Homo sapiens: one gene and its partners. The protein of the gene in region 3 interacts with the protein of the main gene of each other region in a pairwise test. Each region holds a gene or a part of one and is shown on either strand. Other genes may lie near its edges.

Evidence for each region.
Region 1: the proteins of SMC3 (region 3) and CEP63 interact in a two-hybrid assay, tested with the Homo sapiens proteins (2 studies listed by BioGRID and IntAct).
Region 2: the proteins of SMC3 (region 3) and TRAF3IP1 interact in a two-hybrid assay, tested with the Homo sapiens proteins (2 studies listed by BioGRID and IntAct).
Region 4: the proteins of SMC3 (region 3) and MTNR1B interact in a two-hybrid assay, tested with the Homo sapiens proteins (one large-scale study listed by BioGRID and IntAct).

Annotation. Positions count from the first base shown.
Region 1 is NC_000003.12:134,558,798-134,566,435, reverse strand, and holds the end of CEP63 (centrosomal protein of 63 kDa), read right to left. Parts: intron 7,287-7,638; coding exon 7,007-7,286; intron 5,060-7,006; coding exon 4,901-5,059; 3' UTR 1,405-4,900; downstream 1-1,404. UniProt on the Homo sapiens protein: Required for normal spindle assembly.
Region 2 is NC_000002.12:238,394,901-238,402,801, reverse strand, and holds the end of TRAF3IP1 (TRAF3-interacting protein 1), read right to left. Parts: intron 5,344-7,901; coding exon 5,123-5,343; intron 4,049-5,122; coding exon 3,883-4,048; 3' UTR 1,905-3,882; downstream 1-1,904.
Region 3 is NC_000010.11:110,600,202-110,608,102, reverse strand, and holds the end of SMC3 (structural maintenance of chromosomes protein 3), read right to left. Parts: intron 7,665-7,901; coding exon 7,557-7,664; intron 7,082-7,556; coding exon 6,973-7,081; intron 6,467-6,972; coding exon 6,219-6,466; intron 6,138-6,218; coding exon 5,925-6,137; intron 5,630-5,924; coding exon 5,438-5,629; intron 5,279-5,437; coding exon 5,101-5,278; intron 4,920-5,100; coding exon 4,813-4,919; intron 3,873-4,812; coding exon 3,801-3,872; 3' UTR 2,055-3,800; downstream 1-2,054. UniProt on the Homo sapiens protein: Central component of cohesin, a complex required for chromosome cohesion during the cell cycle. The cohesin complex may form a large proteinaceous ring within which sister chromatids can be trapped.
Region 4 is NC_000011.10:92,968,250-92,976,150, forward strand, and holds the start of MTNR1B (melatonin receptor type 1B), read left to right. Parts: upstream 1-1,401; 5' UTR 1,402-1,476; coding exon 1,477-1,699; intron 1,700-7,901.

The DNA of each region.
Region 1 (7,638 bases), on a different chromosome or scaffold from region 3:
CTTTTTGATTCACAGACACCTTCAAGATTCTAATGAAAATTATGAACCTTCTCCCCAGAAAAATGCACAATGCACATTTTTTGCATTTAATATTATTATATTACTATTATTAACATTAATAAATGTTTTGCATTTAATATCAAGGAGTTTTAGACCTTCCCCTATCAACTACTGCCTTACGTTCTTTTTGTAAGAGGAGTGCAAAAGTTCTTCTGACTGGATGATTGTCAAATAATTGAACCTGGTCTTAATGGGCAACATAAAATTCCCAAATTCTAGTTCCTCACAGAGAGGGAAAAAAAAAAAGATGTGAATTGTATGTCTGAATTATCAAAATTGCACTGCGGAGAAATAGCTTTTACAAAAGATTGGTTTAAAGCAGTCTATCATCCCTCTAAATTTTCCCTTTTCAGGCCATGAGAGCTTTACGCAATCATGTTTGTGGCCCTCTCAGAACAGTTTCCTCTGAATTTGGATGTCAGCCTTATGCCATCAACCCACAGTGAAGCATACTGTGGGGGGAGCTGTGCAGATTATTATTACCAGTTATGAAAATGTTGGACTTCTCTTCTGGATACTCACATACTTTACAAAACGCTTATTCAAACACACAAAAAAAATCTGTGCTTTTCTTAAGTCTATGATTTTTTTTTTTTTTTATCTTATGGGCACCATAAAACTTTTAGGTAAATGTTTTCTCCTCTGCTTTTCCCCCTCTGAAGCTCAGAGGTAACTTGGCTGCCTTCCTCTAGCAACTGGACTGGACAACTAGATTCATTAGTGAATCAATGTTTACAGCCCTCATTTTCCCTCTGCCCCGATTCTGTTTGTTACTTTTTGATGCATTTATACTATTTCAAACTGTTTTGGGACAAGCTGACACATTTCTAACTTTTTCTACATTTCAGTGCTGTTCATGACAACTGTTTGCTTAACGTATGTTCTCATGCCATAGAGCTTATTTTATAATTATCTTTCTTATCTGCAACTTTTAGGTACTGGACTCGAGTGTTTTGCAAACAGAAAATCATCACCCACAGTTTACCAGGTGTTATGTGTATGTAAGAGAGAGAAGGTAAGAATTGTTTGGGTTTAAGCAGATGTCACAGAAACAGAGTGTTGTAGTATTTTTTCTACACTTGTTGAGATCAAATGAGTCTGCAAGGGAAGGTAATGTCCAGCCCACAGTGGGAAGTCAACTTTGCCCTCTTCAGCTAAAATCTGCGTAGGAATCCAGATGAAAATTCATGGGAATCCAGGACAAGAAGAATGAGATGACTTGCCCAATAAAACATTATCTGTAAACACCAGATGTAGACTACAAATCCCTAATCTTTTCATCTCATTTGGGTACCCTGATCACGGACAGATTTTGGAAAATGTGTGTTAAGACACTAACTCAGATTTAGTCTTGACACATTTTAATATTTGGTATTAATATATCTTTTTGAAAAATGGTGAGACATTAAATTACAGTCAAATGTTCTGACAAATTTGGACAACCCATTAACTATTAGATACTTCAGCTTTAAAAAACAGTATAATTTAAGGAAATACATAGTACCTCATGATTCCTTAAGTATTTCCGGTGACTACAGAGTCTGTCATTGTTCCTCCTAGTCAACACGTAGTACAAACGTTTCAGAAACGGGCTGCAGTCTACAGATTTTAAGCTGAAGCTTGGGACTGTCTAAAACTCAGAAATCTCCTGAATGTAACAGCAATGCACATAGGTACAGTACTTAAAACTGCAAAGCCCTTTCAAATATATATTTTCAGTAAATCTTCTCGACCCCATTAGATATTATTTCAGTTTTACTGATAAATACAATGAAGCCTTGAATGGTAGTGATTTTCATCCACCCAATATTTGCTTAGGATCTGTTATGTGTTAGGCAGCATGCTGACTGAGGATGTAGGCAGGACTTAGCCCCTGAAAGACAGAAATCAAAGCGGATAGCAAAGTCTGGTCAGAGCCACACACAGGGTGCCATGACAGCAATGAGGAGAAACGTTCCCTGACATGGGTCAGGGGATATGGGAAAGCTTTGCCAAGCCAGATAAAGTAGCCAAGTAAAGGGGGAGTTTTAGGAGCACATGACAGGGTGTGGGAAGAGGAGACAAACTGAAGGACAGCATGCACACCAACACAAAAGAAACGATGTGGTGCACCTCAGGAATGGCATTTTCCATTGGTTCAAACTAGCTGAGCCTCTCCTAAGTGTTGGGCTTGTGCTGGGTGATGAGGATCCCACCATGAACCAGAGAAGCAAAGTCCTTGCCCTCAAGGAGTTTTAATTCTAAAGACAGAAATAGACAGTACAAACATAAATCAAGTAATGAAATGATTTCAGATAGTAGTGAGCACTATGAAGCAAGTAACACAGGCCAATGAGCTAGAGAAATGGGGAGAAACAGGTTTGGGAGGCAGCAATCAAAGAAGGCTTGCTCAGGAGAGGATGCCAGAGTGCAGGTCTGCAAGGGGGAAAACGCCAATCAAAGGTGAGGTAAGAGAAAGGGAATATTCAGGGTAAACTGCAAATGAAAGACCCGAACAGGTTAAAGCTTGCTGCACTCAATAAACAGAAAGGACGCCAGCATGGGTGGAGCACAGTAAAGGATGATGCAATGGGTGATTAGGCCCAGATTATTGACACTCTGTAGGCTATACTAATTCATTTGGATTTTATTCTGAGTGCAGTAAGAAGCCTTGGGGCTGGGTGCAGTGGCTCACGCTTATAACCCAGCACTTTGGGAAGCTCAGGCGGGTGGATCACTTGAGGTCAGGAGTTCGAGATCAGCCTGACCAACATGGTGAAACCCTGTTCCTACTAAAAATACAAAAATTAGCTGGGCCTGGTGGCATGCGCCTGTAATCCCAGCTACTCGGGAAGCTAAGGCAGGAGAATCACTTGAGCCCGGGAGGTGGAGGTTGCAGAGAGCCGAGATCCTGCCACTGTACTGCAGCTTGGGCGACAGAGTGAGACTCTGTCTCAATAAAAAAAAAAAGAGAAGCCTTGGAAGAGTCTGAAGGGAAGCAGTGGTGACACTGTTTCATTTACATTTCTAAAGGATAACTCCAGAAGCTCCCTGAATTACTGGTGTGAGTACTATCAGTTAGGAGGCTACTGCCAGAATCAGGGTGAGAGAGAAGTAGTCTGGATCAGGTGGTAGAAGTGCAGGAGGGAAACGGTTGGGTCTGAGATAAGATTCTGGGGGAAGAAATGACAGGACCTCCCAAATGACTGGATATGCGGATGTGGGTAAGGAAGGAATTATAAGTAACTCCTAGGAACTGGCAAACATAATGCTATGTCCTGATATGGAATCTTAGCAAGAGGGAGAATAAAGAGTTCTCTCTTGGAAACAAGATGTTTGTCAGATATCCAAGTGAAGACATCGCATAAGCAGCTAGGTATCTAAGACAGCAGCTCTGGGGAGAGGTCAAGATTAGTAATAAATGTAAGGGTCACTGGCCTATAGGTGGTATTAAGAGCTTGAGAATGGAATGGAAACTTCTAGGGAAGAGAATGCTGAGGGAGAAAACCCATGACAGAGCTCTAGGGGGCCCTCTGACTTAGAGGTTAGAAGAGGAAAAGCCATGAGATGGAGTGGAGGATGAGGTAGAGAGGAAACCAGAAGTTCCAGGTCACAGAAGCCAAGAGAGAGTCCAACTGTGCTGAATGATGCTCAGACACTGATTAGGTCACTGGTGAACTCAAGAGCAAGAAAGCAGTCTGGGGATGGAAGTGGTGTTGGAGAGGGTTAGGAAGAGAACTACGGTGGGGCGGGGTGAGGAACTGGAAAGAGTCACTGCAGACAACTCTTTCCAGAAGTGTTTGGGTGAAGGGAAGCAAACATACAGAGCAGTAAAAGAGAGGCATTAAAAAAAACTGAGGTTTTATTTAAAAAGGGGAAATAACAGGATGTTTTACGCTGATGGGAAAGATCCACTACAGAAAGAGGGTTCACAGAGGCCACACCCTTGAGCTGGCAAGTACACTACACTGACCTTTCTCATCTGTAACTGCACATTCTAGTTCCTTTGCTAGATCTATTTCCTGTGATCCTCAGATGCTGGCATCTTTCAGGGCCCCAAACCCAGCCTCCTGCTCCTCTCTCTCTCCACAGCCTCCCTGGTGGATCTTATCAACTCCCATCGTTTCAAATGCCTGCGGCACATCAACATCCAGATCTTTGTCTCCCATCTAAACTTGTCCTCAGCAGTGCAGACGATGAACATTTATTTCCAATGGATATTCCATGGGCACCGTGCATGACAGCCAGTCCCTTGCCCTCCCTGCCTCTCTCCTCTGCATGAGTGTTGAGCAAGAGAGGACTGCTTGATAAGGTTCTTTAGCACACCCCCCCCTTATTCACTACCAGCCTGACTTTACACACTACCAGCCCCTTGGCTAGGAGGGGCTACCAGCCCAGTAAATAACAAGCCCCGTTGGCTGGTAAGTGGCAAAACCAGTCTATCGATCCAGGTATGTTTGACCCCTAAATCCATGCTTCTACACATTTCCCCTAAAGAAAGTTCCTGCAGTTACTTTATTTTCAACATGTATCATAAAATCCTTATTTCAATTAGTACATAGCTATTCACATTTAAGTCAGCAAGGTAAGTATCACTTTATGATAATAAATATTCGTATGAGAAAAAAGTCTAGCAAAGTGGTTTATTCTTTCAACTTATTGCTGGAAGAAGTCCTTTAAACAAACCAGTGCAGAGAAAATGCCTATCAAAAGTATCAGTTTTTCAGCTTTCTTCACCACTGCTTTAGATGTATCATTTTTATAATTTTATCTCTTCATGTTTTTAAAGAGCTGCTACTTCAGATGACAGTAACTCTTTGGTGTTTATTTTTATTTCCAAGATAGTGATTTTTTTAAGAGGCTACTTTAAGGCTGTGAATTGTCTCACTGTCTTTTCACTCTCTCTTTTTAGTTCTTCAATATGGGCATCCAAGCGCTCTAGAATGTGATGAGACCTCAGTTCCTCCTCTTCCAAAAATCTGGTAGCTATTGAACCAAGGGGAGATACAGGCAAGGAACACTGGAAGAGACACAAATTTTGACATGTGTAAATAAGTAGAATATTATATTTCTAAGATACACTGTTCATGACATTTTCTAACTAGCAATATTAAAAGGTGATTTTTTTCCTCTGAAGATACTTTTTTGGTTTTCATCCTAATGACAAGAGCAATAAAAGAACAAAAATCAGTAAGTTCTGCAAAAATTAACACAGATCTCTCCGTTTCTGACCCAAATTGTAACAATGTAAAGTATCATATATTAGTTATTGGTCTGAAGAATGTTTCAATTTAGACTTATATATGCTTCCATAGTTAATGCCTATTATTTCAAACTCACTTTAAAAACCTAAGTATGTCACTTTTATTTTAAAGCACAAAAATTTAACAAAAATAAATTAGATGCCAGCTAAAATCAATTATTTTTTCTCCTCCAAATTTTCAGTCCACAGTCCCTTATCTGAAACCCTTGAGGCTAGTGATATTTCAGAATTCTGATTTTAGAAAGGTAACATAGAACATATGCCATATGCAGTCAATACTCATTCACAATAGCAGTAGTTGTGTTCTATAAAGTCACCCAAAACACTGAATTAGCAAACACAGAATTTTTGGCCCAGGGAAAATACACACATACAACAAATACACACACACACACATACACACATACCCCACACAGAGAGCATAATCCTAAATCCTAGAACAAATCATTCTGGTAGATTCTGTATTTTTTATTTCACATGAGAGACATGAGGTTCAGAAGTGGTAACTCTCCTGAGGCTGCCCCACTAACTGGTGCTGAAGCTGGGATTCAGACTCTATCCAGCTGGCATGGAGCTGAGCTTCTTTCCCTACACTGCGCTGTCCCGTCCATCTCCACCCTATGGTCACCTCCGCATAAGCAGGGGCAACAAGGCAGAGTGCTGCCTACTTCGACCTTGGCTGGGATTGTGCAAGTCGGTCACTCAAATTTTTTGTCACTCTGCATATGTCCACGAATTACTGTGGAAGTGCTGCGCATACTGATTTGGGAGTTACAGATAAAGTTTAGGGAGTAGACAAATTCACAAATACAAAATCTGTGAATAATGAGGATCAACTGTATTACCCCAGTGGAGTCTGAGGGAACATCCCATCACCAAACACACTGATATTTCTGAAGCAAAACACATGGATACTCACACTAAGTGGAATAGAGAAAGTCTATACATACTAACACATCAGTTCAGGCCAGGGAAAGTTCTGGTGCCAAAAAAATTTTGCTGCTAAACTTAGGAAGAAAGTGAAGTGAGGACTTATTTTGAAAAATAAAAGAAAACCTTTCCATGGACTTGGTAGCACATTAATAAGTCAGAAATACTGCACTTTCACATCTATATGGCCACAGCTGGTGACAGGAAATGAAGGGCCCATGGCAAGTGCTTTGGTGCAGAAGGCAAAAAGATGGTGCAGCCTGCCCAGCAATGGAAGGAGCAAGGGACCGGCATGGTGTCCAAGGCACATTCTGCCCTGAGGGCCACCATCTGTGACCCCCAAGCCATGCTCTGCACACATCAGAGGCACAGCCTTCCTCCCCCTCCACACTCCCTTTCTCCTTTCCAGCAGTTCCTCTTTTCCTCCTTCACTGCCTGTGCCTCAGGACTATCTTGGCATCCAGAGACAGTTCTTGAACTAACCATTCCAGAAGAAAATTGAGCATCACTGAAAAGGGCAAGAAGGGAATTTCCAATAAGGGTTAAAGACAAATGAATACGTATAACATATTTCAGAACATTTTGAAAAGTAGTCTTGGCCGAAAGTGTCTTCACAAGCAAAAACTGTATGACAGGGATACCTAAGAATAATGAAGAGTACTTATGATAAAAGAATCAGTAAGGAAAAAAAAATCACCTTCTTCACCCTTAAAATAAAAAATCAAAGCAAACTTAAAAAACTAACAAATTACTAAGATCAGAAAGTTTCCATACCGAAGATATAAACTCTTCTTGGTCATTCATACTCTCAGACATAGTGTCAGAAAAATTGGCTTCATTTGTATCTAGCGCTGAAGGCAAAGAATGAGTTTTACATAGAGAGTAGGAAGTCAAAGACCTGGTGGAGCTGCAAGGGCTGATTTGAGGACTCAGGGGGCTTAGCACCCTAGACATGGGGTTTATACTATCCGACGCTTGTCCTCTTGGAGAATGAAGATCTGTTTTGTAGTGCTCAGTCTTTATTCCATCATGTCTGTGCTGGCCATGGGTTGGCCTGGATGGTAGATTAGAAAACAAAACAAATAAAAAATTGTAGCAACTTTTCTCTTTCCAACAGAAATGTAGGAAATTTGCTTAATAGCCTAACTAATAAGGCTACAATTTACAAAATGAGCAACCTACTCAGATCAGAAAGAGATTTCTTTCATTCATTCAGGCCCCAAATATCCAATTCCAACTACCAAGTCCCTGCCCTCACACACTTATGGTATAGCAAGAAAGACAAACAAGCTGCCAGAGTAATCTAGTGTGGTTAGTGCTGGGACAGGAGAAGTGCTGTGCACATAAGAAGGCACCTAACCTAACTAGGGGATTGGGTGGGTGTAGGAGTGGAGGTGAGGGTGTCA
Region 2 (7,901 bases), on a different chromosome or scaffold from region 3:
ATCTCAGCCTCCTGAGTAACCGGGACTACTGGCACACACCACCATGCCCGGCTTTTTTGTTTATTTTGATGGGGTCTCACTCACTATGTTGCCAGGGCTGGTCGCGAACTCCTGGGCTCAAGTGAGTCTCACGTCTCGGCCTCCCAAAATACTGGGATTACAGGCATGAGCCACCACGGCTGGCCAAAACAAGTTTTATAGTTTTTGTTTTTGTTTTTTTTTTTTTTGAGACAGAGTCTCACTCTTTTACACAGGCTGGAGTACAGTGGCACAATCTCGGCTCACTGCAACCTCTGCCTCCCTGGTTCAAGCAATTCTTCTGCCTCAGCCTCCCAAGTAGCTGGGATTACAGGCACCCACCACCACGCCTGGCTAATTTTTTTTATTTTTAGCAGAGACAGGGTTTCACCATGTTGGCCAGGCTGGTCTCGAACTCCTGACCTCAGGTGATCTGCCTGCCTTGGCCTCCCAAAGTGCTGGGATTACAGGCGTGAGCCACCACACCCGGTCAAGTTCTACAGCTTTAAAAGACATTTAAATTTCTCTTGCTGAATTTAAAAGAAACCAAAGTCCCTCCCAATATCCCTTTATGAAAATACACATAATCAAAAAGGGGTTCTGACTAGGGGGCTTCACTAATGCCCCAATGTAAAGCTTGCATAAACCATACTTATTGAAACACCTTTTAGGAAAATATAAAACATTTTTATTAATAAAGTGTATCCTATGATAGAGTTAAACTCAGAGCCCAAATGTAGCAAGTAGTTACATTTGAGAATCACTGAGAACAGCTATTCCTTCTCCTCCGACTTAGGCTGGCTCATGCTTGACTTAGAATTTTTCTTACTTCTGCTTTGCTACATTAGTCTTTGCTGGAGAGCCCCTCAGAGGAGCCCACAGTGGTCTACGTAGAGGCGCCATGAACAAGGTTATTTACTCTCTGCACTTTCGGGTGTGGAAAGAAGAGTCCAGAGTGGGGAGCCAAGTCCAGGTCTGGGTGTTTAGTGTCTTCCCTGACGGTGACATGCTGAGCCTTGATCCTGCTTGGGCGTGGCCTCCTTCTGAAGCAGGTTCCTGCGGAAGCTCAAACAGGCTGCTCATCCTGCTTGCTGCTGGCTCACACTGGCTACTGATCCCAAAGCTGCTCAAAGGCCCTGGCCATCTTTTCTCTTACTCGTGTGCCATGACACTGTGCACATCGACCAACAGAAGATAAACCCCATCAGTCCAGGGCAGCTCAGAAGACTAGCACCGGAATAGTTCGGGGGCACTCGTTAATACACTGACTAGAATTCCATATCACCCAAATCCTAAGTAGCACTTCATGTCACCAAGTGACATCATTTTTCTTCATAGATTTCAGTTTTTAAAAGTTGATTATTAAAAAGAAAAATAAGGATGAATATCAAAGTAGAAAGCTGCATTTTAGTCTTGAACTATTTCTTCCAAAGGTCTATTATGCATTTCCTTTGAATATAAATTATCATCAGCTCAACTTTTAAATTCAAATTCCTGAAGTATGACTCCAGTACTCCCTGAAAACTTATAAACCAAAGTATAGAAAAATACTTAATAATCCCATTTGTGTATTGTCTCAAAATAAGAGAAAAATTAAATTTCTCAAATTAAGATCAGGATCTAGTGTGTAGGATAAGATACAGTAACAATCACGTGTAGAGACCTTCTAAAACTTCACAAATGATCTTACAATTTCTGATAAATGCTTACCTATCTTATAAAACTTCAATTCATACTGAAAAGAGATGTGTCACAATATGAATGAAAAGATGTATTTCCCTGAACTTTCCTCACGAGAAAAACAAAACACACACATTTGAAAATAAAAAATCCAAATGCTTATGATTTTTCCATGTGTGAATCGAACTGCACAATCCATACACTTATGGAAAAAATATGTGATTATTTTTAATGATTTACGTATAAAAGAAAAATAAACTTTATGATACAATTTGACAGACTACTTCATAAAAAATTTTACTTACATACAATGTATGCAATTTTTGGCAACCCCCAAACTCTATTCACATATACAAATTCATAAAAGGCAGACATCTCAACTTGAAGTAAAACAAGGTCCATTCAGGGTCATGGCTAAGTCATTTGATTCAGTAGAAAAGAGATTATAAATACATGAAGGGCTACTTAACTCATGTCCCTCCACTCCCCCAAAATGTATGTAATATAATCTGATCAAACAGAATTTTATGGTGCACTATAGGAAGGAGAAAAAGACCAGCGTTTCAGAATGGCAGATCTTAATAATCTGCTCCTGAACTTATTCAGCTCAGAAAATCATATAACAACCTGAGTACAGAATTTATTTTGGAAATTGTATGAAGAAAAACCCAACGGTGCCATTTGTGCTAATCCTTAAAGAAACAAAACCTGGCCGGGTGCAGTGGCTCATGCCTGTAATCCCAGCACTTTGGGAGGCCGAGGCAGGCGGATCACGAGGTCAGGAGGTGGAGACCATCCTGGTCAACACGGTGAAACCCCATCTCTACTGAAAATACAAAAATTAGCTGGGCATGGTGGCGTGCGCCTGTAGTCCCAGTTACTCAGGAGGCTGAGGCAGGAGAATCACTTGAACTCGGGAGGCGGTGGTTGCAGTGAGCCGAGATTGCGCCACTGCACTCCAGCCTGGGCGACAGAGTAAGACTCCATCTCAAAAAAAAAAAAAAAAGAAAGAAACAAAACCTTTTCAGGCAATCCTCACACTTTAAATGGCACTCCTCAGTTTACATAATAAATACACTATTTAAAAGTATTAGGACCCAGACCTCAAGACCCATAAGTATGTCTTCAAACACAATGAAATGTTTTATACAGTAACTTAAGACTCTGCTAAGTATTTACAATAGTATATGTAAGTGAAAAACTATAAACCATGTTTTTAAAAAACTTTTGCTTTAAAAAACAATTTCCAAAAAAATGGCTAACATCAAAAAACGTCGTAAATCAGTGCATCCTTTTAAGTCTTCCTTATGTTGTTTTTCCTAAGCTGCCTGTCTCTCGGTATGCACACCCATGCAAAGGAAAAGCCATGGCGCCAATGCTTTGCAGAGCGAGACCCTCTTAAGGAGAACAAGGACTCCGGGGGGCTGCGCTAGCCTCTGTCTGAGGAAAACCAGGGTAAACTGCGGAAGAAAGTGAGGATGTATGTCCAGACAACGTCCATAAAGGCCATCCTGAAATCTCCTTTTTAAATTTATGAACTTTAAGGACTAGAAACACAAGCAAACGATAGTAGAGATCAAGAGGAAAATTACATAGAGAAGTACATGCAATTACAAAGAGGTCAAAAAACAAAAATGAAAACAATCCAGTTGATAGGTACCTGATATGGAGACAGGCTGAGGTTAGCCCTTTCCATTGGAAATTAACTAAAAATATAATGTATTCATTTTCAGGCCTCATTCTACTTATCAAGTGCCTATCAAAAAGTACACAGTCATCCTTCATTCGGCACTGACCTCTGAAAGTCTTTCCACTAAACCAAAATAAAGGACTACTGTTCCCTTGGTATGCCCACACCACTTACCTGCTAGAGAGTTCTGGTACAGAACTAAACAGGTTACAGCAGAAACACAAAGAACAGGCTTTCAAAAAAACTTTTCACAGAGGTGTTTGGAAGCGCTATTTATAACTAGCCAGTATTCCATCTGGAAGGAGGTAAGAAAACATGGTTTTTTTAATACACTTAACATGCTTACAGTTTTAAAGCTCTGAAAATTAGCTGGATAATAACATTGTAAACTGTTCATTTTCTTAGCAAACTGGAACTTAAAAGAGTAATGATTTTCTATCTTCCTTTTTGCTTTTAAACTGAGGTGACTTTTCATCTCTGAAACTTTTGAGTGTTCACCTTCTCGAAGTCAAATTGATACTATATACCATTTTCTGGATTTTTTCTTCATTCTTGAGGATGTTGGCCTTCACAGCACAGATCTTGTCTTGCTGGTCTTTGATCAGCTGCTCCAGCTCCGCGAGCTCAGCCTTTAAGGGCTCCACGGCACAGTCTGTGATCCTGAGGGAGAACAAAACCAGCGGCTCATCACTCTCTCATCTCATTGTGTGTTGGCTTCTTAATTAAGACATTGAAAGACAACAGAAGTAAATTATTCGTTTCATCCAAAGAAAAGGATAATATTTATTTCTTATTTTCACAACCCCTGCTACAACCAAAAGTGAAGTCAAACATGAGATTTATAAAAGCAGCAGTTAATATTTCTTCAATGATAATCTTGAAGTCCTTAAATTACATACAGAACAACCTCTGGGACAAGGAGGTATGCAGCAAAGTCCCCATTGACTTTGGGGATCCCCCCTCCACTACCCCCCACCTATGTTCCTGCCGCAGGGCCTCTTCCCCATTACTGCCCCACTCCGCTACACCCCTACCTCTGCTCCTGCTGCAGGGCCCCCTCCCCATTACCCTCCTGCCCCACCCCAACCTGTTCCTGCTGCAGGGCCTCCTCCCCCATTACTCCCCCCACTCCGCTATCCCCTACCTGTGCTCCTGCTGCAGGGCCCCCTCCCCATTACTCCCTGCCTCTGCTACCCTTAACCTCTGCTCCTGCTGCAGGCCTCCTCCCATTATCCCCCTGCTCCCCCCCACCTCTCTCCTGCTGCAGGGCCCCTCCCCATTATCTTCCCCTCACCTCTGCTCCTGCTGCAGGGCCCCCTCCCCATTACTTCCCCTCACCTCTGCTCCTGCTGCAGGCCCCCCTCCCCATTACTTCCCCTCACCTCTGCTCCTGCTGCAGGGCCCCCTCCCCATTACTTCCCCTCACCTCTGCTCCTGCTGCAGGGCCCCCTCCCCATTACTACACCCCACCTCAGCTCCTGCTGCAGGGCCCCCTCCCCATTACTACACCCCACCTCTGCTCCTGCTGCAGGGCCCCCTCCCCATTACTACCCCTCACCTCTGCTCCTGCTGCAGGGCCCCCTCCCCATTACTACCCCTCACCTCTGCTCCTGCTGCAGGGCCCCCTCCCCATTACTACCCCCCACCTCTGCTCCTGCTGCAGGGCCCCCTCCCCATTACTACCCCCCACCTCTGCTCCTGCTGCAGGGCCCCCTCCCCATTACTACCCCCCACCTCTGCTCCTGCTGCAGGGCCTCGGCGTGCTGCCTGTTCTCGCTGTGCCACATCTGCAGCTCATTCTGCATGGCATCCACGTCTTCCTGGATGTAGTCCATGATCTTCCCCAGGGGAAGTGCGCTCTTGCACAGGGTCTGGATGGACGTGCGGAGCTTCTCTATCTCCTTGGAAACGATGTCCTTCTCCTTCTTCCATGCCGACTCAAAGAGAGATCGCTCCTACAGTCAGGGAGACATAGGAAGAGGAACACGCCTCCTCAGTCCAAAGGCAGAACAGGGCCGGTGCACTCAGCACACGGCCATGGGGCTGGGAGGAAAGGCGCAGGCAGAGACAGTGCTGGTTGTGGGACACTCACTCCCATGCAAAGGGAGAGCCATGCTGCCTAACAGAGTAACTCTGAAGTGCTGCACGCCATCAGAGGACACAGCACTGCCAGGGAGGGGCCGCTCCTTCCCTGCTCAATGGGGATGGGGGTCTGTCTTTACCTGGAAATCCATCTGAGGGCAAATCTCTATACAGGCAGATTTCAGTTCCCAACTAACAAGCAACTTTTGTAGCTATTGTTACAAGAGCTTAGTGACATGGAAGATTTTTCCCAAATGGACTGGCAGAATGAGGGCCTGACCCTACAGCTCTTCAAATGGCCCACCTTCCATCCCAAATGACTTCAAAACCCAGCTTGCCAGGGGGCAAGGGGAAAGAAACCCAAAGGAGAGGCAGAAACTGGTGCCATGGAAAGGAGGGCATGGAGAATGTGCAGGGCAGCCAGCGCCAGCAGCAGCCAGCAGCAGCCAGCAGCACCCAGCAGGCAGATGGTCAGGTCGACTTAGACGTGACTGTGCTGGCCGCTCAGGGAGGCCACAGAGTCCAGGGGTCAGGGGCCAGATGGAAGGGGTCAAGTTGAGACAGCAGCAGGTGAAGGAGGTGAGGAGGACGCAGAGACGAGTGGGGAGCTGCATGCGGTTTGGGCCAGGAGTTCTTGGGTTCTTTGCCATGCAACATTTAGAATTCTCTTCATATGAGCTTTGATCACAGACATCTCTGAATGTCAGAAACTGATGTGAGTTGATAAGAATCAATAAGCTTGGGAAAATTAACATCAGTTCTTTCTCCTTCTTTCCTTTTTTTTTTTAATTTTTTTATTATTATTATACTTTAAGTTTTAGGGTACATGTACACAATGTGCAGGTTTGTTACATATGTATACATGTGCCATGTTGGTGTGCTGCACCCATTAACTCGTCATTTAACATTAGGTATATCTCCTAATGCTATCCCTCCCCCCTCCCCCCACCCCACAACAGGCCCCGGATTGTGATGTTCCCCTTCCTGTGTCCATGTGTTCTCATTGTTCAATTCCCACCTATGAGTGAGAACATGCAGTGTTTGGTTTTTTGTCCTTGCGACAGTTTGCTGAGAATGATGGTTTCTAGTTTCATCCATGTCCCTACAAAGGACATGAACTCATCATTTTTAATGGCTGCATAGTATTCCATGGTGTATATATGCCACATTTTCTTAATCCAGTCTATCGTTGTTGGACATTTGGGTTGGTTCCAAGTCTTTGCTATTGTGAATAGTGCCGCAATAAACATACGTGTGCATGTATCTTTATAGCAGCATGATTTATAATCCTTTGGGTATATACCCAGTAATGGGATGGCTGGGTCAAATGGTATTTCTAGTTCTAGATCCCTGAGGAATCGCCACACTGACTTCCCCAATGGTTGAACTAGTTTACAGTCCCACCAACAGTGTAAAAGTGTTCCTATTTCTCCACATCCTCTCCAGCACCTGTTGTTTCCTGATTTTTTAATGATCGCCATTCTAACTGGTGTGAGATGGTATCTCATTGTGGTTTTGATTTGCATATCTCTGATGGCCAGTGATGATAAGCATTTTTTCATGTGTTTTTTGGCTGCGTAAATGTCTTCTTTTGAGAAGTGTGTGTTCATATCCTTTGCCCACTTTTTGATGGGGTTGTTTTTTTTTTGTAAATTTGTTTGAGTTCATTGTAGATTCTGGATATTAGCCCTTTGTCAGATGAGAAGGTTGCGAAAATTTTCTCTAATTTTGTAGGTTGCCTGTTCACCCTGATGGTAGTTTCTTTTGCTGTGCAGAAGCTCTTTAGTTTAATTAGATCCCATTTGTCAATTTTGGCTTTTGTTGCCATTGCTTTTGGTGTTTTAGACATGAAGTCCTTGCCCATGTCTATGTCCTGAATGGTATTGCCTAGGTTTTCTTCTAGGGTTTTTATGGTTTTAGGTCTAACATGTAGTCTTTAATCCATTTTGAATTGATTTTTGTATAAGGTGTAAGGAAGGGATCCAATTTCAGCTTTCTACATATGGCTAGCCAGTTTTCCCAGCACCATTTATTAAATAGGGAAACATTTCCCCATTGCTTGTTTTTGTCAGGTTTGTCAAAGATCAGATGGTTATCTTCTTCCCTTTCTTTCTTCTCTCTCTCTTTCTTTACAGCCAGGGTCTCACTATGTTGCCCAGGCTACTCTCAAACTCCTGGGCTCAAGTGATCCTCCTGCCTTGCCCTCCCAAAGCGCTGGGATTACAGATGTAAGCCATCATGCCCTGCAACACTGTTTCTTTAGGAAGCCCTCCCTGGACACCCCCCCACCCACTCCAGACCGGTAAGGGGCCCTTCCTTGCCTCACCCACTTACAGAATGAGCTAGTAAATGCACTCAGTTGTAACAAATCAACTTATTTAATTTGAACGTATCATAGCTACATATTCACTTGCATTACTTCTGCTAGTTT
Region 3 (7,901 bases):
TCCCAGGCTCGTGACCCCTTCCACCTCAGCCTCCCAAGTAGCTGGGACTACAGGTGTAGCCACCAAACCCAGCTAGTTTTTAAATTTTTTGTAGAAATCGGGTCTCACTACATTGCACAGGCTGGTCTCAAACTCCTGGCTCAAATGATCATCCTGCTCCAGCTTCTAAAAATGTTGGTATTACAGGTATGAACCACTATACCTAGCAGAATTTTTAAGAAAATGATTTCTTAAATCTTTAAGACAGAACATAATCTCTGCACCTCTGTGGCAAGCACCCAACAACTGGAAGCTGTATCCTGTGTAAGACCATTTGCTGGGTGATAGTGAAATCTGAATACTGTTCACTTTACTTAAACACTGGTATTCTCCCTTTGTGGGAAGCTGAATCAAAGTACTAGTCCTTTTATTAAGAGAGTTTTGGTTTTTTTTTTGTTTTTTTTTTTTTTTGACGGAGTCTCGCTGTGTCTCCCAGGCTGGAGTGCAGTGGTGCGATCTCAGCTCACTGCAACCTCCACCGCCCAGATTCAAATGATTCTCCTGCCTCAGCCTCCCAAGCAGCTGGGACTATAGGCCCGCATCACCTCACCCGGCTAATTTTTAGTAGAAACAGGGTTTCACCATGTTGGCCAGGCTGGTCTTGAACTCTTGACCTTAAGTGATCCGCCTGCCTCAGCTTCCCAAAGTGCTGTGATTACAGGCACCGAGCCACCGCGCCTGGCCTAGATAGTTGTTAAAAGAGAAACACCTTTTAAGAATTAACTAAATATTTCCAAAGACCCGTTTGCTATTGCTTTTTTTTTTTTTTTTGAGATGGAGTCTCGCTCTGTCGCCCAGGCTGGAGGGCAGTGGCACGATCTAGGCTCACTGCAAGCTCTGCCTCCCGGGCTACCGCCATTCTCCTGCCTCAGCCTCCACAGTAGCTGGGACTACAGACGCCCACCACCACGCCCGGAGAATCTTTTGTATTTTTAGTGGAGACGGGATTTCACCAGGTTAGCCAGGATGGTCTCGATCTCCTGACCTTGTGATCCACCCACCTTGGCCTCCCAAAGTGCTGGGATTACAGGCGTGAACCACCGTGCCCGACCGGCTATTGCTTACTCTTAAAAAAGAAATCCTCCCTTTCTATTTCTCCCTTTTCTACTGATTATATTATTCACAGTAAAATTATTTCTATAAATTACATCATTTTCTAAAATTACTATTTCACTAATTTTGAGTAGACAAATCCTTAACCTACATACTAACCATTTCATATTTTACATTTTTTTCAAAAAGAGCATAAAGAGTATACAAAAATCCTTACAAATATTCACACTCTGACTTCTAGGAATCTACGCTGGGAAAATAATCCTAAATGTTGGGAGTTTTATGTATAAAAATGTTGATCTGTTTTTTAATTCATTTTTGGTACTTTAGCCAAAAGAAAACGATCTAAGCCTCCAGTGGGATATTTAAGTAAATTATGCTACTTCTACTTGACAGAATAGTATATGACTATTAAAATCTTGTTTCCAAAGCATTAAAACAGGAATATTTTATATTATTACTAAATTAAAAATCTAAGATATAAAATTATACACCTAGAATAAACATAAACCACAAAACTTTTTATGAAGATTTGAAGGAAATGCCCCAAAATATTAATATTGGCAGGCCAAAGCAGAAGATCACCTGAGCCCAGGAGTTCAAGGTTGCAGTGAGCTGTGATCCTGCCACCGCACTCCAGCGTGGGTGATGGGATGAGACCCCCCCCACCATCTCTTAAAATATATGTTCTTCAATTCCACTATGGTGAATGTAATGTATTTGTAACAGTATTAACAAAATCTCAAAGTGGAAGAATCAGTACTACTCTGAGGAAAGGACTATCCAGCCAAAGAGAAGCATAGATTTTCTTATGAATCACTGGCTAACTCCTTGGGTAAATGTCTGTCCTTCCTCTAAGTTTCTGGGTTAAGCATGCTCAGGATTGTCACATTTTTCTATTCAGTCTCATTAGAATTAATTCATGACTAAGATATCGCAAAGAATATAGGCTTTTACAAAAATTTTGTTTCATTATTTAGATGCTTTATTGTTATAAATTTACTGGCATTTCATTATACTAATATCCTTGGGGAAATGCTTAAGAACAATATTAAGAAGTTCTAGAATGATGTTATGTTTGTAACATCCCTTGAATTGAATCCTGGAACTTACCTTACACCAAATTCTGTATTATAAGGGGTTGGTCATATCAGAGCAACTCTACAAATCGTAAACTATACACCAAGCATTCATGATGAATATTCTTAGGTAGTTGTTTGAGAAAAATTCTTGGGTAAATGTGTAAGAAAAATGGTAGAAATATTAGAAAGATATTATAGTTACGTAACCCTTTGAATGTAGTCATAGATAGAACATATACCAAATTCTCTATTATAGATCAGTTATGTTATAGCAAAGCTACAAAGTATAAATAATACACCGAACATTTAAAGATTCAGCCAGTCAAAATGAAAACCCAAAGTAAACTCACATTTTTAAATTCAATTTAAAGTCCCATTACTATTTCTTTATTTTAAAAGTATCTCTTTAGGTATTTCTGGTTTCCAATGATGGAAGAGTAGCTCCTAACAAATTCTCCTGCAGATAACCAGTATAAACTCAGGCCAGGGGAAATCAAGAAAAAGAAATTAAAGGTAAATATTTGAAAAGGAAGAAATAAAACTGCCTCTTTCTTGCAAATGACATGACTGTCTATGTAGAAAATCTCAAAGAATCTACAAAAAGCTACGAGGACTATTGAGGTAGTTTTCCAGGGTCACAGGAGACCCCCAGTGCTTAAAGACCTACTTTCAAAGAAAAGAGTAGTATGGAAAGGGAAAAAAATGTAACTTCACAACAAAGAAACCTGGCAAGTACAATGTTGGGTAGGTGATCAAGGTAAACATCAGTGATAAAACATGTTAATAATATGTACTATTATATGAGGTAATGAGAATACTTCGCTTCTGTGGTATTAGCTCCAATCTAACCATGAGAAAAATATTAGACAAACCTAATTTGAGGGACATTCTACAAAATATGTGAATATTATTCAAAATTGTCAAGATATGATAAACAATGACAGAGAAATTGTCACAGACTAGAGGAGATGTAAGTAAATGTAATGTATCCTCTGTGGGATCCTAGAAAAGAAAAAGGGCCTTAGTGGAAAAACTAGTCAAATCTGAATAAAATCTTGAGCTTAGTTGATAGTAATGTATCAATGATAAATATACCATGGTAGGGGCTGATTTTGTGCTTCCCTTCCCAAACTCACATGTTGAAGTCCTAACCCTCAATACCTCAAATTTAACTGTATTTGGAGACAGGTCTTTTAAAGAGGTGATTAAGTTAAAATGAGGCCTTACATCCAATCTGATTAGTGTTCTCACTGGAAGAGACTATGACAAATGAAAAGCCACATAAAACACTATATTAGTCATAAAACCGATTATTTAATTGAAGCTATAAAAAAGGTAGTATAAGTGATAAAATAATTAGGAAAGAATATTTAGCATGTTTCAAAACATTTAAAATAGGAGCAGAACATTTTACAAAAAGTTGTACAGGAAATTAAATTCTTAAACTATCAGTACAAACATGACATTACAGAGTATCTTATAAAATACAAAGACAAATATAAAAGGACTATGATGCTTTAAGTCTGAAAACTATTGGCCAAATATTTAGGTTTAAATTTACAGTTCCTGGGTATGAGAATCATATTACTATATACATCTCCCAAACCAGTAGGTAGTATTTTCCAATTAACCATGTGTGGTATCATCTTCTACAAAGTCTTTGGCCATCTCTGCTGTGATCACATCAATATGACTAACCTGAAGAATAAATGTTAAAAACAAAAATCTGTTAATTACATCAGTGTTTACATTGTATAGGGTAAATATATACAGCCTATCAACTACATTTAACTACATTTTTTAATTTTTAGTTTTTTTTTTTTTTTTTTTTTTTGAGATGGAGTCTTGCTCTGTTGCCCAGGCTGGAGTGCAGTGGCACCATCTTGGCTCACTGCTACCTCCGCCTCCCAGGTTCAAGCAATTATTCTGCCTCAGACTCCCAAGTAGCTGGGACGACAGGTGCACGCCAGCATGCCCAGCTAATTTTTGTATTTTTAGTAGAGACGGGGGTTTCACCATACTGGCCACGTTGGTCTCAAACTCCTGACCTGGTTATCTACCTGCCTTGGCCTCCCAAAGTGCTGGGATTACAGGCATGAGCCATTGCGCCCGGCCTATCACCTATATTTTACATATGAAGGAAAATAATTCTGAAGCACTGACTTATAAAACCTTTATTTACAGTGGTGTTTGTTCAATGCATAGATTTAAAAAATATGTATTTTAATGCTCTGAAGAAATAAATATCATGCCTAAACATCTAAACTACCTTTTTGTTCACTTTCTATTACTTTGCTATTTCATCAAGAATTTTAAGGTTGGGAAGACACCCAGGAAGAGCTATGCAGTCTATACAAATGAACATATATAATTGTTAAAGACTGTGCATTACAGAAGCATTGAATAGACTGGACAGAAAGATATTGTTTATTAATGCCAATGAAAATAAAACCAATGCAACGCCATAAAATACTGCTAAACTTCATAGTTATTTGAAGGAAAAGTTCTTTCTTTACAAAGACATCAGATAAGCAAAGACTTTCTAAGTTTTCTTTCACTATTTAAGTAACATAAAATCAGAATTCAACAAATATAATTGAATAAATACAAACTTAAACTCAATGTAAAATAAAATTACCTTATTTCTGAACTTTACACCATAGAATTTGTCAGCTGACTCAAGCAGTTCAGGCCTAAAAGTAGTTGTAATAAACTGAGCATGTACAGCAAGTTCCATAATCATATCTGTAAAAAGAAAATTGTGCTTTAACAAATTTCTTTTCAGCAGATCTGAAAATTTAAAAAGCAACTATCTTTACTCTTACTAAAATTCAAAACTGCCTGAGTTTGATTTTTTCATATATACATCAGCAAATATTACCAGCTTATTGTTAAATACAAAACCAAAACTGTACTGAAACTGTACCTGACACAGCCTTTCTGTGCTGAGCATCCAGAGCCTGGTCAATTTCATCAAACAAGTAAAATGGAGCCGGGTCACATTTCTGAATGGCAAAAATCAGAGCAAGGGCTACCAAGGATTTCTGTCCACCTGAAAGCTGTTGCATTTCTCTCATTTCACCTTGTTTTCCTGTAAATGACACCTAAAAATAAACATATTATGAGTTAATATCCTAAAGGGCAGAATCACCACCATCTTTCAAAAGTAACTTGCATATAATGCACCAATCAGATTTGCAAAAGATACTATAAATTCTATTATGGTAATGCTCTGAGGAAAATGGAATATAAAGGTATTTTACCCTAATTCCAACTCCAGTAAACTGGTCAACTGATGGGACACTGCTTTGTGAGCCAGAACCCCTCTCACTCTCACCACTCCCTTCTCCTTCATCTTGAGACTGACTGCCCTCCACATCTCCTTTCTTCATCACCAAAGTAGCTTTGCCACCAGGTACTAACTTCTGGAATACTTCACTGAAGTTCTTAGATACCTTAAAACAAAAGCAGATTGAAATATAAATTTTGCTTAGAATTATATATAACACTTAAGTAAAATATTTAAAAGCAACCAATTATTTTTTAATCTTAAGAACAAGGATAACAGACTAGATCCTTCTAAGGGCTGTGTAAAACATTCAAGTTACTGTAAACCTATATGCTAGGTTTGTTCACATGTATTAGATTCACCTGGTAATGAGGAAAACAGCTTTAAAATCTTTACAAACTGAAAAGAGCTGGAAGCTTTTGTCCTCTGTGTGTATGTTTTAACTACAAAGCGAAACATACCTGTTTGAAAGTTAACTGAATAGCTTCATATTTCCGAAGTTCAAGTACATTCATCAGTTCCATGATTGATTTGTAACCCCTATCTAACTCTTCTTGACGCTTTATTAACTTTTCTTTCTGCTCGGAGAAATTTACAAACTGATCCAAAGCCTTTTTGTTAACATGGCTGTACTTCTTTAATTCTGTGTTGCACTGCTCAAGTTTTCGAAACAACTATAAAGAGAAAATATGTATTCATATAAATAAATTTATATACTGAGCAATTTGTAACAAGACTTCAAATTTAAAACCAACCTGTTTGAGGCTCAGTGTCTGGTACTTTTCAAATGCTTCCTGGGGAAGTGATCCAAGTTCTCGAATTTTCTTCATACACTCTTCTTTCTTCTTCAATAGCATGCCTTGCCGATTTGTCATCTTTTCCAGTTCTTTAGTATCATGATTTATAGCATCCATATGTTCTTTTTCCATATTTTTCCAGCGCTCCATACTCTTCTGAAGCTCCTTAATTCCAGCTTCTGTTTTATCAATGGAATTGTCCAAATCTAAGATGGGGGGAAACAAAATTAGGCTATAATACCTATAAAGCCAGTGTTATATGTTGAGTATAGATTTTTATGATCAAACCTACCAAAATAGGTTTTAGGTTTTGTGTTTAAAATTTTCTGTGAAAATTTATGAACCATGTTAAGTCAGTACAAAATTAGAAGTATATATGAGTCACTCAAATATATAATTTTCATTATTCAATGTTAATGCTTATAAACTATAGTTATTTTCTAACAACTAAGTGATGAGAAACTTTCGTCAGGTATTTCATATTTTATCAACAAAATGAATCATTTATGGTCTCAAAATTGTCATAAACATTTCAGTAAAACAAAAGTTACTATTTATAGTCAACTTCCTAAATTCCATTTGCTATACATTGTTTATAATGGAAAACAAAAAATCATTAGCATATGCTTCTGCCTATTTGGACATTTCATTCTGTAGTAAACAATTTTATAAAACATGCATATAAACAAAATTTTACTACATAAAAATTCACCTTCTGATCGTGCCATAGTGTCTTTTACTCTTTTATTGATGGCTTCAAGTTCTGATGTTGTGGCTGTGAGAACAGTACCCCCTTCTGTCTCTCTCAGCTCATTAAGTTCCTGTAACAAAAAATACAAATTCCATTAGTTTCAAATGTTATGACTGCCAACATTTTCTATGGCTATTGTCTGAATAAACATTCAAGAAAACAAAAAAATATAAATACATCATATAATTACAAATACTTAGAAGTATCCATTAAAGGGAAGAAAAAAAAGACACAATTACTAGAAAATTTCTAAGCATCTAACCACCACTGAAAAAATATTAACAAAGTACTTAGAATGTGTCAGGATAGCAATTATATAAAACAAGTATGATAATGCTTAATTCACACAAGAAACTGAGGCTTAGAAATAGTGACTTGTCCAAAATCACACACTAGGTGGCAGAATTCCAACCCAAGGCCCACAAGACACTAAGCTTTCTGTCCCCAAAGCCCATGCTTTCAATCAGAGCCTCTGATATAACCACTTGCAATAGGTCATGGCCACCAAGGAGCCCTTAAAAAAAAAAAAAAAAACACATACACACCTGTTCTACTTGGTCCAAGCGTTTTCTCAGATTCTCATTGAGATAAGTCTCTACTCGAGTAATAATACCTTCTAATTTAATTCTTTCATTTAGCAACTGTCTGTTTTCCTAGAATTAAGAAAAAGTTGTCTATATAAGCATGTACATTTCACACACAGGAATGGTGCTCATTTGCTGTCCTCTCTAGTACTTGTGCTCATGTGAGCTGAAATGAAGTTTAATATGTTATATTCTTCAAAAAAGCCCTATACTTTCTTCATTTTTCTCTTATCAATTCATAATGTTAAATTTTTGTGGCTGGCCCTTTTTATAACGCATGCTGTCAAAAACAGTTTCTTTAAATGC
Region 4 (7,901 bases), on a different chromosome or scaffold from region 3:
AATTTTTTGGTGTTTGTTTCTCAATACCCACCCTCAAATGTAACCACTTTTCTGATTTCTATTAGAAAATAGATTAATTTTCCCTGATTTTGGACTTCCTATAACTGGAATAATATGGTATATATTTTTTGGTATCTGGCTTCTTTTGTTCAATACAACATATTTGTGATTAATCCATGCTGTTGTGTAGGTCAATCATCTTTATTGCTGAGTAGTATTCCATTGCAAGGTCATACCATAATTTGCTTATCCATTCTTCTGTTGGTGGAAATTGCAGGTGTTACCAGATTTGAGCTCCTATAAACAAGGCTGCTCTGGACATTCTTGTACAGGTCTTTTGGTGGAAATATACTTTCCTTTTCATTTGGAACTTCTGGTCATAGAATAGGTGTATATTTAACTTTATTAGGAGCTAACAGACAGCTCTTCAAAGTGGCTATACCATTTTGCATTCTCATAAAAGCAGTGTATGAGGGTTCTGGTTGCTTAACTTCCTCCACAAATATAGGATAATCAGTCATTTTGATTTTAGTGATTCTAATGGGTGTGAAAAGTGCTTTGGGGTCATAAGATTAGCCCCCATTAGAAGTTATCTATTATTATTATCACCAGATCACGACTCAAACATTTTTAATAAAGGGCACCTGAGTTCCTTCTTTATTGTAATCATGCCTCAATCTTCTTCTTGTCCTAACCCCTCCAAAAACCACATCATAACCCCCAATATTGGCCATACATCTATTTAAGTATTATGTGTAAATATATGTTGGTAAATATGTTAAAGTATTGGCTTTATAAAGAGGACCCAGTAGAGACATCATCAATGCCCCCCACAATACCCAGCGAGTGCTTGGAAAATGGCTAGGTTCGTATTTTTCTGCAGCTCCCTAGAATATAACAGTCTACCCTACTTTGTTCTGGGCTCTGTCCCCACATCTTAGGAGTTGCATTCTCTTTCGGGCTGCACAGCCCTATGGGACGTCAAACCTTGCCTTTCTTGACAACTGATGGGAGGTCCCTACCATCAGCACCTTCTCCAGTCTATCAACCTGGGTTGGACGTCCCTACCTAGACACAGCTTCTCTTGGGGACGCTGTGGAGGAAATCGGGGTCTCGGGTGTGGCTATATACTCAGGGACAGAAGCTAGACGCGCTCCGCAGCCTGAGGTGGGCCAGGCACCTGCTGGGCTCGGGGTGGCAGAGACAGCTGTGCGGTCCCAGCTGTTCCTGAGCGCACCGCTGAGGGACGCACTCCCTTCTACAACGGCTGCACCCCAAGTCCTCCTCCCATTCCTATATTTTTCTCCATCCCCTGCCCACGCTTAATTAGTTATCTCCTCCAGACCCCTCCCCACTGGCCTCCTCCCTTGCACACGCGAGCTGGGCAGGGAAGAGAGCGCCCGGCTCAGTACTGCGCGCGCCCTGCGGCTGTCCGGGGCCGCGCGGTGGCCAAAGCACAGCGCGGGAGAGTCTGCGATGTCAGAGAACGGCTCCTTCGCCAACTGCTGCGAGGCGGGCGGGTGGGCAGTGCGCCCGGGCTGGTCGGGGGCTGGCAGCGCGCGGCCCTCCAGGACCCCTCGACCTCCCTGGGTGGCTCCAGCGCTGTCCGCGGTGCTCATCGTCACCACCGCCGTGGACGTCGTGGGCAACCTCCTGGTGATCCTCTCCGTGCTCAGGAACCGCAAGCTCCGGAACGCAGGTGAGCACCATTCCTGATGCTGGGTGCTGGCATCGGGCCCTTCCTTGTCTTCTGATCTTGTCCCTGACCCCGGGATATGCGCTGCCTTTTCCCTCCTCAGCCCGGGCTCCCCTTTCCCTTCACTCTAACCTATTCCTTAAGTTTGACTCTGCACTCAAAAGTTAGGGTGAGTTTTGCCCCTCCGAAGTGCGGCTGCCCAGGACGCGCTTGGCACAGAGGGAATTGCGGAAAGTTTTACTGGCGCGCTTTTTGGCCGGGCGCCGGCGCTGTGGGAACCCACGCTGCTGGATGCCATCGCTACCCCGTCGCGCTCCAATGCGTGTCTTTCCAGAGGTGCCCACATCAGGCCACAGAAATCTCACCACCTGTACTTGACATCCCACTTCCTTCCTTGCCAAGCACTGTAGCTTTATGTAGTAGTCGCTTAGAAAATCCTTGCTGAAAAAATGAGTTAATCAATGGAAGCATTTCAGTAGGTTTTGTGTCAAAAACTTATCTCCAGGTCATCTGAAGACCCAATTCCAGTTGACGGAGAGTAAATGCAGAAATTGCAGATTCTGCTTGGACTGAACTAAATTGCTTTGAAATATTGTGGTCTTTTCCGAAGACTGGGAATTCCTGGGATTAACTGTGAAAATTAAAGCAATGATTTGGCTAAATCGTGTTGTAATCCTGAAAATATTTTTCCTATTTCAATCCACTCTCATTTCAATATTCCCCTAGTCAGGTCTTCAAAGAAACAAAACCAGAGTGGGGGGCAGTATCTGAACTCTAGCCCTCACAGGTCATGGGGCATGATGACCACTTCAGCTTAGGAAGGAGCTCAGTCACCTGTTTGTTAATTTTGCAGTTTCTTCAAGTTGGGCCTTGGGAGCAAATTCAAATATTAGAGTGAATTAAAATGGAAAGATAGCAGCAGTAAAACAACCATATAGCTTAAAAATGCTTTTCTAAGGAGTCAGACCATTTTTAGCAAATAGTAATATGTATTTGGTGTGGCCTGTGACTCTAGAAATTTTTTTTTTTTGAGATGGAGTCTCTCACTCTGTCACCCAGGCTGGAGTGCAGTGGCATGGTCTAGGCTCACTGCAACCTCTGCCTCCCAGGTTCAAGGGATTCTCTTGCCTCAGCCTCCCGAGTAGCTGGGATTACAGGCGCTCGCCACTACACCCAGGTAATTTTTTATATTTTTGGTAGACACAGTATTTCACCATGTTGGCCAGGCTGGTCTCGAACTCCTGACCTCAAGTGATCCACCCGCCTCGGCCTCCCAAAGTGCTGGAATTACAGGCATGAGCCACTGCGCCCGGCCAACTCTAGGATTTTTAGCTAAAAAAACAAACAAGAAACTCCTCCAACTGTGAGTATCCAGCCATCATATGGGAAACATAACATTATTAAGAAGAAGTAAACTTTCTAACTCACTTCAGTAGTGGTGGCTGTTTTCTGGAATACATTGTTCAAAATATTGTGTCCTTTGAAGAAAAGCTTATATATTAGGGAAAAACAGGTTATGATTAGAAAACTGCATTTAATATTTTTGACACATTGTCCCTTGCAGCCATCATAAACATTCATTTCCAGCACAGGGAAGCAAAAGGGAGACAACTCCTGGCTCTATGGGGGAGAAATGGGTCCTCCTGGTTCTGACATTGGCCCCTTCTGTCCCTGACTTATTGAGTATTTAGAGCAGGTCTGTCAGGCCATGGCTCCCTGCTCAGTAATTTGGATTGCCCACCATGAGAAAGGTGGTTGAGGGAAGTAGGAGTTGCTTCCTTTTGCTGGAAGGAGAAAAGCACCCCTCCCCTCCTGCATCCTACAGAGGGCTGGCCTTTTCTGTGATCCTGGCAGGGTCTGCAGAAACCTAACCAGTTTAAGAGCATCACTGGGGAGGGTCATGAGCATGTTAAATTGCTGGCATATCCTCTGTTCTATCTTTCCTACCTCCTGATGTGTCCGCTACAGCCCAGCACCCGAACAAAAAAAAATAATAATAACACTATATCTAAATGACATCAATTCCTGCCACTGCTGCAGTCTTGCAATTTAACCAGTTCTTATGTGACCTCTGGCTTTATTGGTGACAGTCACAAACAATTGTAGTACTGACTTGAACTAAATGATCTCAGCAGAGTGAGATTTCAAAAGGCGCTTAAAACCTACAGCTCTTTGAATAGTTAGCACACATTCTACTCTTAATCAGGCCTTGTCTTACTGAAGAGTTTGGATTTAATTTAAGAAACGCTTCTTCAGACCTTTCTGTACTTAAGTCTGGCTCCTTAAATCATTGGTATTAAAAAATTAAGTCTGTAACAATGAGAATACATATATTTCCAATAACCAAGATACATAGCCCATATTGAGGTCACAGCATGTTTCCCAGGAGACACCAGTATCCTTTACTTGCCTATCACAAACCCAGTTCCTCTATGGAGCAGATCTGTATCATTCCTAACAGTGCCGCTCCTGATGGCAGGGTGAGTGGTTAGATTAATTGTCTTTTTTTTTTCAGGGATATCCTATCTGTAGTGTCTGTTGCTGCATGTGGTGGGTTGACTTCAGAGATAGCACCAGAGAAAGGCAGACAGGGAGGAGTGGAGGCAAGGTGGGAGGTAGGGTCAGGGCACCGACCCAACTTAAAAGGTAAGGCCAAGTGTGTTCACTCTTTGCTACATTCTCAGAGTCTTGCACAGCCCATGGCACTGGGTTGGCACCTCACGCCTGTCAGATTGTGCTTCCCAGGGACTTGCCACACTTTTGACTCTACTGAGAGCCGTTGAGAACTTTCCCTCCTGGGCTCACCACTGCTGCCCTGACCCTTGAGCTACACCTCGCTAATATTTATCTCTTGCATTTTTGAGCTCTTCCTTTCTCTCTTCTGGAAACTTCCTCCATGTTACACACACACACGATACACAAAGTCTCCTGTTTTAAAAGAACAAAAGACTCTTTTCTTGACTTCATGTCCTCCTAACTTCATCACTACCTCTCTCCCTCCCTTTTCAGCCAGACATTTTAATGTAGTTGTGGACATCTACTGGTTCTACCCCATTGCTTCCCGTCCTTCCTCAGTCCTCTGGGCGCCATTCTCTGGAAATGTTCCTCTGTGCTGTGTGTGACACTGAGGGCCACTCCCTCTGTGGGACCTTTCATTCCCTCGGCTAACCTGGTGCTAGTTTTTGGATCTCCTTTTTCTCTTCATCTCCCGGATACCTGTGCCCTGAAAGTCATCTTTGGTTCCTCCTACTCTTTCATTCCACATGTCCTAATGATTTTACCTTCCACTATTTCTCAATTTCTCCCTTTCCTGCCTCCTTATTCTTACTGCCCCACTTCATGCCTTCATCATCTCTTGAGCAAACACTATCCATAGTGCTTGAGAGCTTTTCCTGCTCCCTCCCCCAGCCACTGTTACCACTGCCAAGAGTTTCCCTGTCTTCAGTGGCTGCCCTCCATCTCCAGAACAGTGTCCAACTCCAGAGCACAGCTCCCACGGCCATTTGCGGCTGGCCTAGCCCACCTAACTTACAGCCTCATTGCCCTCCTCTCACCAGTGTCACAGTGAGCTGCTGCTACTTCCCAAAGGGTCTGCACTCCCTGATGTACTTTCTCTACCTCTTCTGCCCAGTCAACAGCTGCTCCTCCTTCAACTCCTTCCCCAACTCCCCTGAAGGATTATCAATGTTGATTATTAATACCATGAAGGGGATAGTAAGTGTCTCCCTTGTTGGGCTTCTAAGATACCTGTGCCCTCCCCAGTACAGCATCCCCCTCACTGTACTATTGTTCTTTGTCTCTCCCCGCTGGACCGTGTACCTGCTGAGAGCAGACACTTTCATTCAGTTTCTGTCCACAGAGCCAGACACATAGTAAGAACAGAACACATCTCTGATTAAATTGGAAATGGATAAGACACCAGGTAGTGGGGGAAAATTAATTGATTTTGCTCCATGAGCTGGGATAGACCTCAGTTACAGTACTCAGCACTGCATAAGTAATCAATACAGGTTTTCATGAAACTGAACTGCTTTGAGAACAGCCCAAAGTATATCTCATGTTAAGCTGACTATTGGCACCTTCTGCATGAAGGCATGCTTGTTCTGTGATTCTCCTGTGTGAGTAAAGTTGCTCAGCAGTTTCCAGCCATGCCATGGTTGTACCCTACTGATTCCTCTTGGGGAGTTTGCCCCTGATATGCTTTGGCTGTGTCCCTACCCATGTCTCATCTTGAATTCCCACATGTTGTGGGAGGGACCTGGTGGGAGGTAATTGAATCATGAGAGCAAGTCTTTCCCATGCTGTTCTCACAATAGTGAATAAGTCTCATGAGATCTGATGGAAAAAGAGAAACTCCCCTGCACAAGCTCTCTCTCTTTGCCTGCTGCCAGCCACATAAGACATGACTTGCTCTTCCTTGCCTTCCACCATGATTGGGAGGCTTCCCCAGCCATGTAGAACTGTAAGCCCAATGAAACCTTTCTTTTGTAAGTTGTACAGCCTTGGGTATGTCTTTTGTTGTTGTTGTTTTTTGTGAGACAGAGTTTCACTCTTGTTGCCCAGGCTGGAGTGCAATGGCATGATCTCGGCTTACTGCAACCTCTCCTGCCTCAGCCTCCTGAGTAGCTGGGATTACAGGCATGAGCCACCACACCTGGCTAATTTTTTTTTTTTCTGAGACAGAGTCTTGCTGTCGCCCAGGCTGGAGTGCAGTAGCGCAATCTCGGCTCACTGCAAGCTCCGCCCCCTGGGGTTCATGCCATTCTCTTGCCTCAGCCTCCCGAGTAGCTGGGACTACAGGCGACCGCCACCTCGCCCGGCTAATTTTTTGTATTTTTAGTAGAGACAGGGTTTCACCGTGTTAGCCAGGATGGTCTCGATCTCCTGACCTCGTGATCCGCCCGCCTTGGCCTCCCAAAGTGCTGGGATTACAGGCGTGAGCCACCGCGCCCGGCCTAATTTTGTATTTTTTAGTAGAGATGGTGTTTCTCCATGTTGGTCAGGCTGGTCTCAAACTCCTGACCTCAGGTGATCCACCCACCTCAGCCTCCCAAAGTGCTGGGATGACAGGTGTGAGCCACTGTGCCCGGCCTTGGGTATGTCTTTATCAGCAGCGTGAAAACAGACTAATACAGCCCCTTTCTTGGTCTGGCCCGAGGTGGCCACTTTTAAGCTGCCTGTAATATGCTGGCCATATAAGAGAGCTGAGAGAACCATGTCCTCACTGTAACACCCAAGTACTCTCCACTATCAGAGAGGAAGTCATAACAACACCAGTTATTCCTGGCTCCATAGGCACAGCCACCTTAATTTTCCAAGTAGCAGTCAGAAGCTGTGGTCTGACAATGGATTTTTGTGCTGCAAATGGGTTAAAGAGGCTGTCTGGGAGGTTTAGTGAGTGCACGAATTGGCATTTCTGGGGTACGTTGATGATTGGTAAAGCAGAAATATATGAACTATTTGATGTTAAGATTGCCTAGGAAAACATGGAGGATTTGCTTGCTGAACACACAGATCTTTGTCCAAGGTCACTCTGTCTATGCTGGCAAAGCTGCCCCTCCTCCAGGCCCCCAGTGATGCTAAGAATTCACACCATCTCCTATCCAGAACCAGTAACTGCCTGGGAGGTTCCTGATGGGAATATTCTGCCTATGCAGGTGCTTTGCTTCCCCGGTTAGATTAGAAAACAGTCTGCACTGTGGCCCCTGTTCCTTGCCTCCTCTCTTCCAACTTGTTGACTGAGACAGCAAATGATGCTTAATAAGCAGCATGGTTCTGAACAAAGGCTCTGGAAGGCCTAGAGTGAAATGCTTAATAGGCCCACAGCCCCTACCCTCCAAGTTATAGAATGAAGTGGAGCCCACTCCATCAAGGCTTCTATCCTACCACCGACCACTCATTGAGATGTCACTTGGCATCAGGTGTCTTTTGACTTGCTCAGCCTGCAATGTTTAGAGTGCCATTATCAGCCCAAGACCAAACTGGGTAACCTTGGACTCCTTCCTGAATGTTTCTTAAGCTGTCCAACTTTGCATTTCAGCTGTGAATACCTTATTGCCTCTTCACTGAGCAAAAATGAACAGTTTTTAAATCCCATAATTATGTCTTTAGCTGAATAATCAGGAAAGCTAATAATCCTCTTTAATTCCTCCCATGTAACTTTCAGTAGCTCAAGGGTATAAAGACTTTAATGTTTGCCTGTCTT